2 linked regions of the Homo sapiens genome follow. The protein of the gene in region 2 purifies or fractionates together with the protein of the main gene of each other region. This does not show direct contact. Each region holds a gene or a part of one and is shown on either strand. Other genes may lie near its edges.

Region 1 (3,283 bases), on a different chromosome or scaffold from region 2:
TCACCTGGGCCCAGGAAGTCAAGGTTGCAGTGAGCTATGATCATGTCACTTCACTCCATCCTGGGCAACAGAGCAGACCTTGTCTCCAAAAATAAAAAGGACATTTTAGCAAAAATTTAACACGATTATATTGACACAACATATAATCAGAAAAGTAAATGATTTCTATCAGAGGCTACCAAAAATACAAAAATAAGATCACAAAGAAGTTGTTCTTATCTAGTTGAAAGTCCAGTATCCTCTAACCTCTAACCAAGATAAGTCTGTTTTTATGAATCATTGCAAATCATGTTCATCTCATCACAATCAATAAGTGAGACCCATATGGCCAGGTAAAATGTGGGAAGAATAACACTCTATAAAATGAGGCATATTTTCAGGGAAGGATAACTACATCTCTAAGCATGAGTTAAATAACATCATACAGTTTCTAAGCCTTAAAAGAAGAACGAATGGATGTTTCTCCAAAATGTAATCTAATTATGTAATATAATTTCAAGAGGCCCCTGGCCAGGCAGTTGGGTATTAACATAGATGTCTAGATATTGCATGAGAAAAATACCTCATGGCTTAAGAGACCGTGAAGCCTTAACAAACCTTCCTCTTTCGTCTACAGAGATACATGAGCAACAAGAATCCAAAATTGCAAAATCTCTTTCATATTTCCATACGGTCCATCAGGCATTTTTTCAAAATCAAACTCCCAAGCAAGATGCACTTTATGTACTCAACATGTTTATTGGAGCAGCTTTGAAATATGTAGTCTGTAAGATACATCACAATCAACAAGTGAGACCTACGTTACCGCTTCTTTCCAGAAGAACGCATGTGCTCAAAACCAAGTTGCTGTTAAAGTGAAAGCAAATCTCTTAGGTGGTGATGAGCAAATAAGGAGTCCAATTTCACTTTTTATCTAGATCAAATACATCAGCAGACACTCAGAAATGGTCAAGGACAGGCTCAAGGACAACGAGTAACTTGCCCAGTGTAGAAGAACTTTCCATATTTGAGAGCTTGAGAAAGACGTGTAGAGATGGGGAAGACTACACTGAAGAGTGCAGCATGGCACTGTTATAATCAGCAGATCAGAGTTCTAGACTGGTTAGCATTAGGGAAAATGGCATGGTCAAAACTCTGTCTCAATATTATCAGATCAAGGTCAGCGTCATATTGGTCCTATGGCATCCATACAAGAAAGAGATGATGATCTGTCACTCCATATATGAAACGGGAGGCTTTTAAAGCTTACTAGTCATAAACAACTTACCTCCCGACTCATTTCATCAGTGAAGCTTTCAATGTTGAACATTCATAAATGAATATATTGCCCACATGTGCACCACTTCCAGCCTAAATCTTCTTTGGATAAGTAACCTGTTACCATGAATATAAAGAAGAGTTTCATTTAAATTTAATTTGGTCCCTTAGAAATAAGAGACTAAATGTTCCAACTTTTAGAAAGGATTCAAATAAGATATTTTCATTTTGCTAATTTTTAGAGTTCTTGTTATACCAAAAAGAAAAGCCCCTCTGATTTCTTAGGTTAGACATGGGTAAAGGAGAAAGGTATTAATACGTGAAGCAATCCATATAATAGTATAAGAAGGGTGTTATGGTCTTGCATCATATGAGGAAATGATATGGGCTAGAAATTCTAAAAGACTCTTTTTACATATATGGTTGGAGGGATGGTAAAGTTAATAAATTTGTGGTTTGCCGTAGTCTATCTACTGCAGTCATTTTTGGGAAATAGTTACCACGAATGCAAGATATAGTTAAATCAAGGTATTTCTTCCCTCATAGGTGGCGGACGTGTGAAAATTGAGAGTGTAAAACTAGATTTCAAAGAAAAGGCCCAAGCTAAAGTTGGTTCTCTTGATAATGCTCATCATGTACCTGGAGGTGGTAATGTCAAGGTAAGAAACAAGGTTATGAGCCAATCTTGTCTTTTTAAAAAAAATTCTTCTGAAATACTCTTCATCAAAATAGGTCCCAGATTGTAGACCTGGACAAATAAGAAGTGGGGATAACAGAGGTGAATAGAAGTCATTAATGTCAGCCCTGGGAGATGGAGAAAGAGGTAGGGGCCAGTTAAGATGCATGAGTTAACGAGGACTGATGCTTGTCTTAAACAGATTGACAGCCAAAAGTTGAACTTCAGAGAGCATGCTAAAGCCCGTGTGGACCATGGGGCTGAGATCATTACACAGTCCCCAGGCAGATCCAGCGTGGCATCACCCCGACGACTCAGCAATGTCTCCTCGTCTGGAAGCATCAACCTGCTCGAATCTCCTCAGCTTGCCACTTTGGCTGAGGATGTCACTGCTGCACTCGCTAAGCAGGGCTTGTGAATATTTCTCATTTAGCATTGAAATAATAATATTTAGGCATGAGCTCTTGGCAGGAGTGGGCTCTGAGCAGTTGTTATATTCATTCTTTATAAACCATAAAATAAATAATCTCATCCCCAAACTGTAGTAATTGTTACAATTTTCTATTTAAAAAATGAATAGTACATGCAGAAATTGACCTGATTTCCATTTGCAACAGGAAGACACTGGCTTTACATGGGTTCAATTGGACAATTATTTTTGCTCTGCTCTGTTTTGCATGGAGTATTATTATTTTAAAAATTGCATTTTTACCTTTCATGTGCCTGAAGGCTATCCACTACATTCTGAAGGCCTTGTTAAAATCCAAGCTGCTCATTTCACTATTCTGTTTCTGAGTGAGAAGATAAAAACTGCCCATTGTAACTTATTTCAGGTTAAATTAAACCAAGGAGTCTGATTGCAGGAAGGGAAGAGCATGTAAGAAATAAGTTTTTTTAAAGTGTTATTTTGTATAAATGGGAAGAAAGATTCAATTAAGTTATTAACATTTGGGACCTGGATAATTATATCAGAGTATGTCAGTCCAATAAATTATTTAACTAATTAAAAAATAGTTGCAAAGCATTTGAGCTGTGGTTGAGGAAGTGGTGTAAAAGTGCATCCATTAGGAATGATGCACTTTCATTAGGATGGACTCGTGTCTGATTAGAATGTCAGTTGATCAGCTAGATTTGTGTCCACACTACCAGTTTCACACCCCCTTTCCATCTGTTTGATACAGTATTATAGATATAAATATATATATATTTCTCTGTGGCCATTTGTGATACTTCCTCATATACTTGAATATTATACTTCTTTATTCACAGTATCTGTGTCTCCTGCACCCTTTGGTGTTGCAATTTTAGATATGTGAAAGTAGATGTTAGCAGGGTTCTCTCCCTATTTAA
Region 2 (3,581 bases):
CTAAAAATTAAAAAAAAAAAAATTAGTTGAGTGTGGCGGCACATGCCTGTAGTCCCAGCTACTCAGGAGGCTGAGGTGGAAGGATTGCTTGAGCCCAGGAGGTTGAGGGTACAGTGCACTCTAGCCTGGGCAACACAGCAAGACCCTGTCTCAGAAAAGAGAAAAAAAAAGAAGTTGGGCACAGTGGCTCATCCCTATAATCCCAGCACTTTAGGAAGTCAAGGTAGGTGAATTACTTGAGGTCAAGAGTTCGAGACCAGCCTGACCAACATGGTAAAACCCTGTCTCTATTAAAAACACTAAAATTAGCTGGGCCTGGTGGTGTGTGCCTGTAATCCCAGCTACTCGGGAGGCTGAGGCAGGAAAATTGCTTGAACCCAGGAGGTGGAGGCTGCAGTGAGCCAAGATCATGCCACTGCACTCCAGCCTGAGTGAAAGGGCAAGATTCTGTCAAAAAAAAAAAAAAAAAAAAAAAGGAAAGAGACCCATGTTCCAAGATAGAAGGTATGAATCACTTTGCTTTTTCCTTGCGTGAAGGGTTGGGGGAAAGGAATCCTATGATCCTTAAACAGCAAACACTGTCAGCAAGACTGCAAACAAGATCCATTTAGTGGGGAAGAGGGGACTATTAAAAGCTGCTAGAAAACTGAATAAAGCAAATCAAGACTGAGAACAGTTCCAACTCCCATCAATCTCCAAACAGTGACAGGTCGGCAGCAACTCCTTTCCTTTATTTCTTCCCCTTGTAAAGGGAAATTCAAGTTCAGCAGCATTCCTTTCCTGCCCCAAGTCCTCAACCAGACAAGAGGCTGCAGGCACCAAATCTTGGGCTGGATAATGGCAAAGGCCTCAGAAGCTCACCTCCAGCTCTGAGCTTCAACAGCTGTTTGTACCAGTGAGTCAGCATTAAATCCACCAGAAAAGAACAGCACCACCCAAAGACTGGGGGGCAGCTGGGCCTGAAGCTGTAGGGTAAATCAGAGGCAGGCTTCTGAGTGATGAGAGTCCTGAGACAATAGGCCACATAAACTTGGCTGGATGGAACCTCACAATAAGGTGGTCACCTCTTGTTTGTTTAGGGGGATGCCAAGGATAAGGCCAGCTCAGTTATATGAAGAGAAGCAGAACAAACAAGTCTTTCAGAGAAATGGATGCAATCAGAGTGGGATCCCGGTCACATCAAGGTCACACTCCACCTTCATGTGCCTGAATGGTTGCCAGGTCAGCTGCAGGCCAGAGGCAGTCTTCAGAGGAGGGGAGACCACAGAGGACTTCTAGGCCACACAAATATGTCTCTCGGGAGACTTCTGGGAAGGAAAGCTCACTCTCGGGGCCGGCTGACCATGACTTCACCCAGGGCCTCCAACACCTCCCGCTTGTAGTCTTCAAAGTCACCATCGATTTGGCTAACACTCTGCTCCTCCACCACCCACAGCTGGCAATTGGTTTCTGTGATGAGTCGGGCATCATGGCTGACAACGATCACAGCTTTGAAGAAAGATAGCAACAACAGAGGGCAGGAAGAAAGGAGAAAGAGGGGAATCAGAACATGAAATAAGGGAGTCCTAGGCCCTTCTGTAGTGAAGGACACTACAGCTTGGTCCCCATGGAGCAGGGATGAGGGCACACTCTCAGCTGACTTACCACCCTTGTATTCATTGATGGCCTCCCCTAGAGCATCAATAGACTCTATGTCCAGGTTATTGGTTGGCTCGTCCTACATAGGAGGAATTCCATGACTGAGCACTGCAACTCCCGTCTTCCATTACTGTTACCCTTATCCCTTTTCCCACAGCCCAGCTCACTCACCAAGATGAGGACATCAGGTTCCCGACAGGCCAGCTCAGCAAACACAACTCGCGCCTTCTGACCACCTGTAGCAAAGGAAGGGGAGGGCTGTCACACCTAGCACCTCACATTCTGAAGGCAAACCCTCAAGATGTGCCAGTTTGTGAGCTGAGGCTCCCTCATTCTCGGTTCCTCTAGGTACAGTTTGTAGACATGAATGATAAGGTGAAGGGCACCCTCCCTGGCCCCTGAAGTGGTACCAGAGAGTTTGCAGATCTGGATGGTGTGGGCGTGACTCTCCAGGCCGAAGCGGCCCAGGCACTTGCGGGCATCCTGGTAGGGCAGGTTGAAGCCCCGCTGCAGGTACTCAGTGGGCGTCTCCTCCATGCGCAGCTGCTCTGCATACTGCTGGTTGAAGAAGCCAATTTTCTGCCCGAGAAGAGAGGGAGGTGGTCGGTTAAAGTCACACTTCCTCCATCAGATTATCATTCCCTAAATCCCAATGCCAACTTACCAGCCGGTGGTTCTTTCTCATTTCCCCATGGGTCTGCAAGGGAAGACAAAGTAGTTAAGAGGAGGGCAAGGGAAAAAGGTGCTGCAGCTCCATACATCAACTTTTTTTTTTTTTTTTTGAGACGGAGTCTCGCTCTGTCCCCCAGGCTGGAGTGCAGTGGCGCGATCTCGGCTCACTGCAACCTCCACCTTCCGGGTTCACGCCATTCTCCTGCCTCAGCCTCCCCAGTAGCTGGGAATACAGGTGCCTGCCACCACACCCGGCTAATTTTTTGTATTTTTAGTAGAGACGGGATTTCACCATGTTAGCCAGGATGGTCTCGATCTCCTGACCTCGTCCATACACCAACTTTTCTGAAGGAGAGACAAACACCAGAAATGGGCCAGGGACAAGTATGCATAAGAAAAGGAATAGGGGCTGGGCACGGTGGCTCATGCCTGTAATCTCAGCACTTTGGGAGGCCAAGGAAGGCAGGTCAGGAGGCACTTAAGGTCAGGAGTTTGAGACCAGGCTGGCCAACATTGTGAAACCCTGTCTCTACTAAAAATACAATAATTAGCTGGGCATAGTGGGACATGCCTATAATCCCAGCTACTCAGGAGGCTGAGGCACAAGAATGGTTTTAACCCAGGAGGTGGAAGTTGCTGAGATCGCACCACTGCACTCCACCCTCGGGGACAGGGGAAGACTTTGTCTCAAAAAAGAAAAGGAACAGGGATGTTCCCCTAATATGACAAAGGCATGGTGAGCAAAGTAAAAGAGTTAAGGGACAAAAGGGGAGTTAAGCAAAATGGAGGACAAGAGGGACAAGCAGGAGGGACTAACCACAGCCAAAGAACACCTGCTCTCCATACAGCGAGACTCACGAATGGTACATCGTAAGGGCCTCATGTGGCAAGTTTAGTGTTTTGGGGAGAATCTAATAATACCTTTCTAAAGATCTAATCTCTGGATATGAGAAAATGGCCTCTCAACACTGCTAGAGAGAGCAGAAATGGCTACAAACTTTCTAACACACTAGATGGCAATATATTACAAAAGTTCAAATAAAATGGTAGAGTTTGCCGGGCGTGGTGGCTCACACCTGTAATCCCAGCACTCTGGGAGGCCGACGCAGGCAGATCATGAGGTCAGGAGATCAAGACCATCCTGGCTAACACGGTGAAACCATCTCTACTAAAAATACAAAAAATTAGCTGGGCGTGGTAGCACGCGCCTGTTGTCCCAGCTACTCGGGAGGCTAAGGCAGGAGAATCGCGTGAACCCAGGAGACGGAGGT

Evidence for each region. The genes of interacting proteins can lie anywhere in the genome.
Region 1: the proteins of ABCF1 (region 2) and MAP2 fractionate together in Homo sapiens (co-fractionation; one large-scale study listed by BioGRID). This does not show direct contact.

What each region holds. Positions count from the first base shown.
Region 1 is NC_000002.12:209,728,047-209,731,329, forward strand, and holds part of MAP2 (microtubule-associated protein 2), read left to right. Parts: intron 1-1,803; coding exon 1,804-1,916; intron 1,917-2,135; coding exon 2,136-2,351; 3' UTR 2,352-3,283. UniProt on the Homo sapiens protein: The exact function of MAP2 is unknown but MAPs may stabilize the microtubules against depolymerization. They also seem to have a stiffening effect on microtubules.
Region 2 is NC_000006.12:30,588,442-30,592,022, reverse strand, and holds the end of ABCF1 (ATP-binding cassette sub-family F member 1), read right to left. Parts: intron 2,336-3,581; coding exon 2,303-2,335; intron 2,218-2,302; coding exon 2,049-2,217; intron 1,875-2,048; coding exon 1,810-1,874; intron 1,718-1,809; coding exon 1,645-1,717; intron 1,489-1,644; coding exon 1,322-1,488; 3' UTR 501-1,321; downstream 1-500. UniProt on the Homo sapiens protein: Isoform 2 is required for efficient Cap- and IRES-mediated mRNA translation initiation. Isoform 2 is not involved in the ribosome biogenesis.